Homo sapiens: one gene and its partners. The protein of the gene in region 2 purifies or fractionates together with the protein of the main gene of each other region. This does not show direct contact. Each region holds a gene or a part of one and is shown on either strand. Other genes may lie near its edges.

Region 1 (4,069 bases), on a different chromosome or scaffold from region 2:
CCACACCTCCTGGAGCACATGCCTAAGGTTTTCTCACGGTATAGACCTAGGAGGGAAACGGCTGGATCACCTGTGAATTCCACTTTCGGGGTCGCCTGCTCTTTGACCTCATCTCCCACCCCTCTCTACTTTGACTACCAAGCTCCTGTCACACTGGCCTCCCCTTCCTTGAACAAGTCAAGCCCATTGCAGCCTCCAGAACTTCGCACCTGCTGTCGCCTCCCTTCAGAGCGCGTTTCTTTCAGGGATTCCCGTGGCTGGCTTTTACTTATCCTCAGGACTCCATCAGATATGACCTCCTCAGCCCAAATGTCACTTTCTCTGTCCCCCCCATCTAAATGACTTACTCCCATTCCTACCCCAATCACCTATGTTTCATTTTCTTTTCTTCTCTGTTTTTTTTTTTGGTTTTGTTTTTGTTTTTTGAGACAGTGTTGCTCTGTGGCCCAGGCTGGAGTGCAGTGGCATGATCTCGGCTCTCTGTAGCCTCTGCCTCTCCGCTCCCAGGTTCAAGTGATTCTCCTCCCTCAGCCTCCCAGTAGCTAGGATTACAGGTGCTGGGATTACAGGTGCTCACCACCACACCTGGCTAATTTTTGTAGTTTTAGTAGAGATAGGGTTTCATCATGTCTCGAACTTCTGACCTCAAGTGATCCTCCCACCTTGGCCTCCCAAAGCGCTGGGATCACAGGTGTGAGCCACCGCTCCTGGCCTAGACTCAAACTCTAGAAGGGCTGAGACCATGCATTTTTCACAGCTGTATCCCCTAGAACAGTGCCTGATACATAGAGAAAAAGTGCTCAACAAGAATTTTTTTGTGGAGGTGGGTACTAATATAAATCTCATGTTAGAGAGCAGAAAACTGAGACTCAGAGAGGTTAAGCCATGCGCCCAAAGTCGCAGAGCTTGAAGGTGGCAGAACCAGGATTGAACCGTGGTCTGCCCGGTTCCAGTGCCCCTGTTCTTTCCGAAAGAGGAGGTCTTGTCCTGACATGAGCTTTTCTTCCTGAACTCTTGTTATCAGTTGGCCACTCCACACCACCTGTCCAGCCACCTGTTGGAGGGAACGCTAGGTCCTCCCTTTGGCTGTCACTTGTCCATCTGCAGCAGGCGAGGACTGTGGCCTTGGACCATGGGAGACCTGGAGTTCCACCACCTGTTCTGGGAGTGGGGCCCAATCAGCCCCCCTGCTTACCTTCTGCCCTATATTAGAGCCCCAGGCTCTGTGCCCTTTTCCTATCATCACAAAACTCATGATGCTCCGGCTGCTCAGTTCCCTCCTCCTTGTGGCCGTTGGTAAGACCCCAACCTGTCTGTGTGCTCCCTGGGCTGCCCTGGACTAGGAATCCTTGAAATCTACCACTCGCTCTGAGTCCCATGACATGCTATGCCTGGTTCCACAGGAGGGGGTCTCAGCTTGTACCCGGGGGCATGACTGTAGGGGCTTTCAGCTTATGATGGAGCAGGAGAGTGGAGGGGAAGCTGTGGATGGTGAAAGACCCCCAAAGGGCTGTGGTGGAAGTCCTTGATGGGGGCAGTAAACAAAGTCAAACGGTTAAGAGTTTGGACTGTGTGGTTGGACTTCTTGGGTTGGAATTTCCACAGTTCTACTTACCACTCCAACTCTCCTCTCACTCCCCCTACCTGGCTCCATATTCTATGCTCTGGCCTTTTCCTGGTCTCTCTGCCATATTACATTCCAGCTCAGGGCCACCTCTTCCAAACAGCCTCCCTTGACTGACAATAATGGTAACAGATAACATTGATTGAGTGCTTACTATGCCAGGCAGAATGTTTAGGGATTTTCTTATACTTTCTCATGTAATTCTCACAACAGCCTCAGGAGATCAGTACTATCATTATCCCCCATTTTACTGACCCTCAAGGAAGTAAAGTAGCTTATCATAGAACAAAAGGCAGAGCTGCACTTAATGTTTTTATTTTTTGCTTTTTTTTTGTAGAGATGGGGTCTTGCTTTGTTGCCCAGACTGGTCTCAAAATCCTGGCCTCAAGCAATCCTACCACCTTAGCCTCCTGAGTAGCTGAGATTATAGGCACATGCCACCATACCTGGCTACTTTATTTTATTGTACTTTATTTTTCTAGAGATGAGGTCTTGCTATGTTGCCCAGGCTGGTCTCAAACTCCCGGGCTCAAGCGATCCTCCCGCCTCGGCCTCTCAGAGCACTAGGATTACAGGTGTGAACCACCACACACAGCCCAGAGCTGCACTTTGAACCCAGGAAGTCCTTCTTTAAAGCCTCCACTCTGTATGACAATAGCTCTCACTTTTTGAGGGCTCATCGAGGGCCAGGCATTGTTCTAAGTGTATCAAGCTCTTCAATCCTCCCAATGAAGGAGGCCACATTTGAATCTCTATCCCTGGACTCCTGGGATTCTGGAAAGCCCTGCTCTAGTTTAAATGTTCACTGTTCATATGTGGTTACTGAGGTCCAGAGGGCGAAAGGGGCTTGCATGGGGTCACACAGCCAGTTGAAGGCATGGCTTGGACTGGGACCCTGGCCTCCTCTTTGCTTTTGGGGACCCTCCAGCTGATTGACAGCTCTCCTCTCCCCTCTAGCCTCAGGCTATGGCCCACCTTCCTCTCACTCTTCCAGCCGCGTTGTCCATGGTGAGGATGCGGTCCCCTACAGCTGGCCCTGGCAGGTAAGAGCAATAGCAGCTGCCCTCATTCCCACCGTGGGCTCTGGACCCTAAGCTCTAATGGCGTGGCATCCAGCCTTGACACCATTGCTCCCTTTGCAATGTCCACTTCAGCTTCCAAAGACCAGGCAGCCCTTGGACCATCTACTTCACGGGGAGGTTTTGCCCGTTTCATCTGTAACCCTCACTGGGCTATTTGCAACTTAAAATTGGAATCGGGGGTGAAGGAAATGCTAAACTCAAGGAGTTGGCACACTGATGGTGGAATTTCAGGCACTGTGTTGACGAAGTGAGATTTTGAGAGACTCATTTCTAGATTCCTAGGATGATACTACAGGGCTTTGAGGTCTGAAAGCAATAAGGGAGTGAGGGATCTTGTAAGGCCAGTGGAGGGAAGCTCAGAAGGCTGGACTTGATGTGCTGTGGCTATTTAAATTTAATTAAATTAGGCCAGGTGCGGTGGCTCACGCCTGTAATCCCAGCTACTCAGGAGGCTGAGGCAGGAGAATCCCTTGAACCTGGGAGTTGGAGGTTGCAGTGAGACAAGATTGCACCACTGCACTCCAGCCCCGGGCAACAGAGTGAGACTCTGTCTCAAAAAAAAAAATTAAATTAAATTATTATTACTATTATTATTGAGACAGAGTTTCACTCTTGTTGCCCAGGCTGAAGTGCAATGGCACAATCTTGGCTCACTGCAAACTCTGCCACCCGGGTTCAAGCAATTCTCCTACCTCACCTCCCAAGTAGCTGGGATTACAGGCACGCGCCACCAAGCCCGGCTAATTTTGTATTTTTAGTAGAGACAGGGTTTCACTGTGTTGGCCAGGCCAGTCTGGAGCTTCTGACCTCAGGTGATCCACCTGCCTCGGCCTCTCAAAGTGCTGGGATTACAGGTGTGAGTCACTGCACCCAGCTGAAATTTACTTACATTAAAAATGTTAACAATTCATTTCCTCAGTGCTTTTTTCTTTTCTTTTCTTTTCTTTGTTTTTTTTTTTTTTGAGACAGGGTCTTGCTGTGTTGCCCAGGCTGGAGTGCAGTGGTGTGATCTCAGCTTACTGCAGCCTTGACCTCCTAGGTCCAAGCAATAATCCCACCTCAGCCTCCTGTGTAGCTAGGACTACAGGCATGCGCCACCATGCCCAGCTAATTTTTATACATTGTTGTAGAGATGGGGTCTCACTATGTTGCCCAGGCTTGCCTCGAACTTCTGAGCTCCAGTGATCCTCCTGTCTTGACCTCCCACAGTGCTGGGATTATAGGCGTAAGCCACCATGCTTGGCCTGCTTGCCACATTTCAAATGTTCAATAGTCACATGTGGCTAGTGGCTACCATATTGGACAGCAAAGATATAGAACATTCCCATGATTATGGGAAGTTTTATCGGAGAGGGTCAGCAGG
Region 2 (3,704 bases):
ACGGCCCTGAGGCTGGTGGTGCCTCTCTTCCCTGATGGAACTGGCCAGGCCACAGAGGCCTTCCCAAGGCCTTAGTGTCTGATGTGTGTATGAGGCGCTCACCAGCACCTACGTGTGCTCCAGCCAAATGCCCTTACCTCAGCCCCCAGCGCCCCATTGGCCCAGCACCCCTGCCCACTTCTTCCGAGGGCCTGGTATCTGACAGGGTAGGATGTTCAACTGGAATTTTCATTCTCCTGTGCATGCCCTACTTCAGTTCTTTCTTTCAAATCCTGGTGTTTATCTTCATAATGGTATTCCTTTTGTTGCAAACAAAAACCATGTCTATGTCTCAGAAACAGCTGCAGCCCTTATTCTGGGGCCAAAAAACACCTATTATTTAGCCAATGAGAAAAGGCAGGTACCTCTTTGCCCTTTGTGGTTCCCAGGGAGTCGTGGCTCAGACCCTGAGTCCTCTCACACCCAGCAGAGCAGCAAGAAGGTCTCATGGTCTCCTCGTCAGGCTGTACAAAGTGCCTGTTTTAGACATTTGGGGGCTGTGAGGACCCAGGAGAATGAGTCTCTGTTTTGTTACCGGTTATTGCGTAACAGACCCCCCAAGTAGAGTGAAAGAACAGCAAACAGCAGTCGCGGCTGGAATCTCACAGCAGACCACACAGGCTCATCTGGGCAGCACCTCCGCTGGGGTCCTGGGGATCTGTGCAGCTGCATGTGGCTGTGGCAGCTGTCTAGACCCTCCCGCTGGGGTCCTGGGGTTCTGTGCAGGTGCATGTGGCTGTGGCAGCTGTCTAGACGCCCCCTGCTGGGGTTCTGGGGGTCTGTGCAGGTGCATATGGCTGGGGCAGCTGTCTAGACTCCCTGCTGGGGTCCTGGGGGTCTGTGCACATGCCTGTGGCTGTGGCAGCTGTCTAAATCCCCCGCTGGGGTCCTGAGGGTCTGTGCACGTGCCTGTCGCTGGGCGGCTGTCTAGACCTGGGCGCTCTTCCACATGGCCTCGCCCCAGCAGAGCAGCCTGGGACACTTTTGTGGTGGCTTCAAAAAAGGAAGGCTACCCTGATGCCACCATTTCCTGCCCATTCCATCAAGGAAAGCAGGTCCAGGCCAGAGTCCAGGGATGGGACCAGCACCTTTCGGTGGGACAGCAGCCTGCCATCCTCGAAAGGTGATACTGGGGCCAGCCCTGGGACCAATACGCTTCCTTTGCTGGTTTTGAGCCCCCAGCTTGTGTGTATTGGAGCAGCAGATTCCATTCAAGGCATGGTGGCACCTGGTGGCACTTGTTCTGGCCCTGCCACCAACCTACCAGCTACTCACAGCCTCAGTCACCTATAAAACTGGGTAATGATGGCTCCCCTCCTAAAAGGACTGTCGTCACACTTCACTGAACAGCCCTTGGCCCAGTGCCTGGCACCCGGCGTGCCCAGGGCCGTGAGCTGGGCATGGTCCTGGTAGCGGTGTGCTTCCTGGCCAACGAGGCTTTGCTGCCACTTCCCAGGGAGGTGTTGCCTTCCCAGTGGACCTGGAAGCCACTCAGCTTCCCCCATCCTGTGTCAAGCCAGGGCCTCCGCGACTCCTAGCTCAGCCCTAGTCCATGGCGGTGATATACCTTCCTTTCTCTTTCCTTTTTAATCTCTGTTTCAGCTAAGGATGGAAAGGAGTTGGTCAGCCCTTGCTTGTCTCCCAGTTTCAAAGGAGAGTGGGAACACGCAGAAGTCACGTACAGGGTTTCAGGGCAGAAAGCAGGTACGGGGAGGGTTGCTGCCTGTTGGTTTCTGCGGGTGAGAGTGGTGGCCTCCTCTCCCCCTTGCCTTTCCCACATCCCATGGGACGTTCCACGGGAGGCTCCTGACCTCTCTTTGAAGAGCCTGTACCTGCCCTGGAAGTGAAGGTGGTTTGGCTGCAGGGGCCTGTGTCTGTGCTGAGAGCCAGCTCCTTCCCTCTGCCTCTGTTCAACATTCCCCTGACTGTCACCAGAAGCTTCCTCCTGAGGGCTGATTTCCTAACAGGCCTGCAGGGAGGAAGGACTGGACCAGCTTGGGGCTGAGATGCAGGGCTGGGACTGGGAGCCCAGGCACTCTGTGCTGTGCTGGGCGGGAATAGAGGGAGGGTCTGCTTCCACCCATCCTGCTCGAGGCTATGGAGCCCGCTGGCCCTGGGCAGGCTCTAGTGCTCTGCACCCTTGCAGTTTCTTCTGAGAGAAATGTTCAAACGCCATTCCCAGACTGGGCACTCGGCATGAGGGGTGCATGCCTTCGCGAACCGTTCAGGTCCTTCCAAGTCAATCACCCACTGGTGCGTGTACCGGGGGGCCGCATCAGGCACAGCAGGACTGCACAGCTGTGTCCCACAGGAGGAGCCAGACAGTGAAGCTCATCGGGAAAGCCTTCCAAGAGAAATAACACGGGGCGGGGATCTGAGAGGGCGATCGCAGCTGTAACTAGGACAGCCAAGGACGGCCTCGTGGGGTAACATGGGATCTAAGACAGGAGGAGGTTTCAAGAAACTGCGCAGATCTGAAGCAGCAGCACCCCAGGCCGCACAAGCAGCACACACCGGGGCCCTCTGTCAGCTGCTGTGTTTAATGAACGAGGAGGAGGTGGTGTGGCTTGGTGGGGGACACCAGGAGGAAATGAGATCGAAGGGTTGGAGCATGGGTCTGTGGACCGTGGGAACCCTGGAAGCACTCGGAAGGATGGGGCCTGGTGGAGGAGGACTGGGAAAGCCGGGAAGCTGGGTCAAGGTGTGGGGTGTAGAGGCGCCCTCAGATGTCCACACGGTCCATTGGCCTCCGGGGTCCTCTGTTCCTGTTCTCCCTCAAGCCATGGGAGCTTGGCAAGTGAGCTGGGCCTCCACTTCCTTATCTATGACATAGGGAGGGTGCAGGCCCCCTGAGGAGGTGGGACTCCGGGCTGGCGGAGGGGGAATGTAGGGCAGATGGTCCCAACAGGCCAGAGGCCACTGGTGTCAGGCATCAGCAGCTTCCTCCTCAGAGTCCAGGTCTGCCGCTGCCTTCGTGCCCACGGTCTTCACTCCCTGCGCCGGGACCAACAATGCCCTGGCTCCTGAGGGCTGCTTTTGACCTGTGCGGGGAGCAGCCCCAACTTGGGGTGGGGTCTTACAGGCTTCTGGACCTGCCTTTTCCTGACAATTCAGGTCAGAGTCTCAAGTCCCCTGGGAGGGGCCCCAAGCAGCTGTGAGGCCTGGGTGCTCGGAGCCCACTGACCGCTAGCCTTGTGCTTGTCCCCAGCGGCAAGCCTGCACGAGCTGTGTGCTGCCAGAGTGTCAGAGGTCCTTCAAAACAGAGTGCACAGGACGGAGGAAGTGAAGCATGTGGACTTCTATGCTTTCTCCTACTATTACGACCTTGCAGCTGGTGTGGGCCTCATAGGTAAGGGGGCCCGGATGGGCTGAGCAGGAAGGTCGGGGCGGCAGGGGGCGGGGGTGGAGGGCGTGTGCTCCCCGAGGCAGAGGGCTGGTGGCAGGCAAGCAACCCTGTTGTCACATCCCTGCAGGAGGCCAGAAGCAGATTTGAGAAGGCGTCTCATCCTGAGTAGGAAAAGATCAGTTCTTTGAGCCCTTCAGTAAAACCTCGTGGCTGGTGACTTGCTGTTGATTCCAGTTCCTGCTGGAAGGCAGGTCCTGCCTTGCACTGGCCCACGTTGTCTCAGACTCAGCCACTCTGCCCTACCCTGCAGCCCTGGCTA
Region 3 (3,704 bases), on a different chromosome or scaffold from region 2:
TGGCTTCTGCTTGCCATTGAAATCTGCACAGGGAACATAAACTCACAGGACACCTGCAGGCAAGGGCACCCTGGAATCCCTGGGAACCCCGGTCACAATGGTCTGCCTGGAAGAGATGGACGAGACGGAGCGAAGGGTGACAAAGGCGATGCAGGTACTCACCTGACGGCTTCGGCTGCCTTTCAACTTCTCTCTTCATTCCTTTCATCTCATTCACTCATCATCTGTGTGATTTTCCACCTACCCACTCACACCCCATCCATCCATACATACATCAACCCAGCAACACTCACTGGAGCCTGACCCCATTCATCCATCCACCCATCTGCCCAGCAACACTCACGGGGTCTGCTCCATGCCAGACTCTGTGCCAGGTGCTGGTGGAGAGCACAGGGCAAGATCGCCATGACCCCTGCCCTCCTGGGTTCTCTCATCTCTGACACCGCAGAACATTTTCAGTAGTATACGATGTCATGGATCCTCCCATCTCAGGTGACAGGTATGATGGATTTTTGGCAACAAAAGGCTAATAGAGAGATCTGATCACGAATTATTTGGCAGCAAGCACCCAGCTGCAGTGCAGGTGAGAGCTAATACCGCATCATGCCATGAAGCAGGAGATGCGGAGTGACAGATGACACAAAAGGAGACGAGAATCTGAAACCATACAGCTGCTGCTTATGCATCTATATGACCTAGGTTGGGACCCTGTCCCAGGGTCTGGGGATCTGGGGGACAGGATTCAGCCTCTGGGAGGGAGATTTGCCAAAGCTGAGAAGTCCGAGTGGTTTCCATAACAACAACCAATAGACTTGGTTTCCGAATGGGGTACCATTCTTGAGGCCTGGTCTTGACCATAGGGTCACATATCTAAGGCATATGCAGAATGATCCATCTGGGTTAAGGGCACAGTTCAGTGGCATTACAAAAAAATATATCAAAACTTCTATGGACCTTTTTAAAGATAAGTTTGTGTTTCTAACACATCTCAGCTTATGGCATTTGGTGGCCTGATGATGTTTTGAGTGGGCTGGATGAAGCCAAGGGTCACCAGGAAGCAACATTCTTTCTAACCACCATCCTGCACATCTGCTCTGTGAGGTGTCTTCTCCTGGCTCACATCTCCAGCTCATTGACACTGTTCCAGTCCCCAGGTAGCAAACAGCCCAGTCCAAATGAATAGCAAAACCTTACCATTAATGAAATCAGGTCTTCTGCCCTCACACTGGGACCACAGTAGTGTGTGTGTGTGTGTGTGTGTGTGTGTGTATTGTATTTCTGAATATATAAGATTTTCATTTTTTGTTATAAAATTTTACACACAAAAGGAGATAAATAGGTGATAGATAAAAAATAGAGGACAAAGACAAACACTCCTATATTCAATACCAAATTTCTCTACCTCTTCCCTGTTGAATTTCTCTCCTCTTTTCTCACCAGTGTCCATTCTTTCAAGTTTTATATACTTCTTAGAAGCAAATTATGTATCTATTTTTCTACGTAGTTCATAGGTATTATATATAATATATATTACTTCTTAGAAGGATATTCATTCACATTGCTCACACTAAAAATTTACTTCATTTTTATCTTATCTTAAAGTGTATTTTTGTATATGTTTTATACCAAACATATTTTCCATATACTACCTGTGCATAATGTAGAAACATATAAATATCTACTGATTGGGGTCTGTGTTCATGCTTTGTGAGTTGTGGTTGCGTGATCATGAAAGCTCAGAGGCCACCGCTCTAGAGAATGGGAGAAACGAGAGCCAAGCAGGGAAACAAAAAGAGGGAAGGAGAGGAAGACACAGGGGAGCAGCCAGTGGAGGGGAGGGGAGGGGAGGGGAGCGCAGGGAGGGGCAAATGTAGGGATAAGCCCCCTCCATTCAGAGGTCCCACGCTGACCAAGGCCCCACTCAGGAGCGCTGGTGTCCCAGGAGAACAGACATCGTGACAGAAATAAGTCTGCCTGTGTCAGTCCTGTCTCAGGACCTGCAAGCCGGCCCAGCCTGCCCCTGTCGCCCCACAGCCACGTCAGTGGGTCTGAAGTATGGGAGTCTCTGCTGCTTTGTGAGAAGCCAGAGTCTGGGGTGAGCTGTGGCCCAATGAGCACTCTACTGCCATAGCCAGAGCCACCTTCAACCTGCTGACGGATAGCACGCCGACCTGGAGCTCAGGGGGGCCTGTTCTGAGCACAAGGACTTGAGTGTAGTCAGCAGAGCCCCACTCACCTGATGTTCTCTGCCAGCTTGATTGGTGGCATTTCCCCCAGTGTAAGGCACTAGAGGGATCCTTCCAGAACTCTCTCTTCTATCTTGGGATAGTGTCACGTAACCATAGTCATCTGTGTTTTCATAGGAGCCTAGTAAATCTTCCGTTCCACTCTCCTCAAGAGTAATGGAAGAGAAACAGAGTGAGGAAACCTCCTGGCACCTCCAACATTCAGACCACGTCCCAAGTCCTTGTCGCAGGAGAGGAACACAATCGTGACAGTCAGTCCCCATTGCACACACTCCCTCTTCGTCCTGTCTTGCTGTGCGCTCTAGGCACGTCCTAGAGATGGGCGCTTGGGAAGTCACTCAGTTCATTTCTTAGGTCACTTATCCCACGCAGCTCAGCACCCCAGATGCCCGCTCATGCCTGCCTCTCTCCACCTGCGCTTGTGTGGAGGACAGAGTGCCCGTCAGGGCGGGGGTCACCCCCAGACTCTCCAACACACATGGCTGATGGAGACCAATGGCCAGAAAAATCAGAAATGGAATTTCAACTCATGCCTGTTTTCTGCTTTTCCACCTAGGAGAACCAGGACGTCCTGGCAGCCCGGGGAAGGATGGGACGAGTGGAGAGAAGGGAGAACGAGGTTAGTAGTTCCTATTTATGGTGCTCTAATTCTGAGCTGTCGACTATTTAACAATATTACCATGGACAAGTCCTCCATGCTGATTATAATCTTACAATAAAGGCAACACAGTTCTTACTCTCCAGACGGGGGGATTCTGCAGGGATTGGCAGGCTTTGCAGAGGGCTGGGTAGTAAATATTCTCAACTCCGCAGGCCATACAGATCTGTCACCACTACTCAACTTCCCCTTGTAGTGAAAAGAAGCTGTAGATGCTCCATAAATAAGCATGGCTCTGTTCCAGTGACACCATATGTGTGAAGACTGAAATGGGAATTTCCCATGGTTTCCATGTATTGTGGAATATTATTTGTGACCATTTAAACATGCAAACCATGGCCGAGCACCATGGCCCACACCTGTAATCCCAACACTTTGGGAGGCCCAGGTAAGAGAATCGCTTGAACCTAGGAGTTCCAGACCACCCTGGGCAACATAGTAAGACTTTGTCTATACAAATAAAAAAAAAATTAGCTGGGCATTGTGGCACGTGCCTGTAGTCCCAGCTACCCAGGAGGCTGAGGTGGGAGGATCGCTTGAGCCTGGGAGGTTGGGGCTGCCATGAGCCATGATCTCGTCACTGCACTCCAGCCTGGGTAACAGAGTGGGTGACCCTGTCTCAAAGCAACAAAAAAACAAGCAGACAAACAAAACCCAGAAAAACAAAAAAACATGTAAACCATATTTGTTTAGCTTGCGGGAGGGAGGCTGAATTTGGCCTGTGGCTGTAGTTTGTTGAACCTTGAACCTTGCAGTGGATGAGCACTGAGGAGTGAGACTGAGTTTTTGACTTGGTGCAT

The links.
Region 1: the proteins of ENTPD6 (region 2) and CELA3A purify together in Homo sapiens (co-immunoprecipitation; one large-scale study listed by IntAct). This does not show direct contact.
Region 3: the proteins of ENTPD6 (region 2) and C1QTNF9 purify together in Homo sapiens (co-immunoprecipitation; one large-scale study listed by IntAct). This does not show direct contact.

The regions. Positions count from the first base shown.
Region 1 is NC_000001.11:22,000,422-22,004,490, forward strand, and holds the start of CELA3A (chymotrypsin-like elastase family member 3A preproprotein), read left to right. Parts: upstream 1-1,235; 5' UTR 1,236-1,253; coding exon 1,254-1,296; intron 1,297-2,581; coding exon 2,582-2,667; intron 2,668-4,069. UniProt on the Homo sapiens protein: Efficient protease with alanine specificity but only little elastolytic activity.
Region 2 is NC_000020.11:25,219,591-25,223,294, forward strand, and holds part of ENTPD6 (ectonucleoside triphosphate diphosphohydrolase 6), read left to right. Parts: intron 1-1,641; coding exon 1,642-1,743; intron 1,744-3,247; coding exon 3,248-3,388; intron 3,389-3,512; coding exon of another isoform or gene 3,513-3,532; exon of another isoform or gene 3,533-3,704. UniProt on the Homo sapiens protein: Catalyzes the hydrolysis of nucleoside triphosphates and diphosphates in a calcium- or magnesium-dependent manner.
Region 3 is NC_000013.11:24,316,016-24,319,719, forward strand, and holds part of C1QTNF9 (complement C1q and tumor necrosis factor-related protein 9A precursor), read left to right. Parts: coding exon 1-154; intron 155-2,802; coding exon 2,803-2,865; intron 2,866-3,704. UniProt on the Homo sapiens protein: Probable adipokine. Activates AMPK, AKT, and p44/42 MAPK signaling pathways.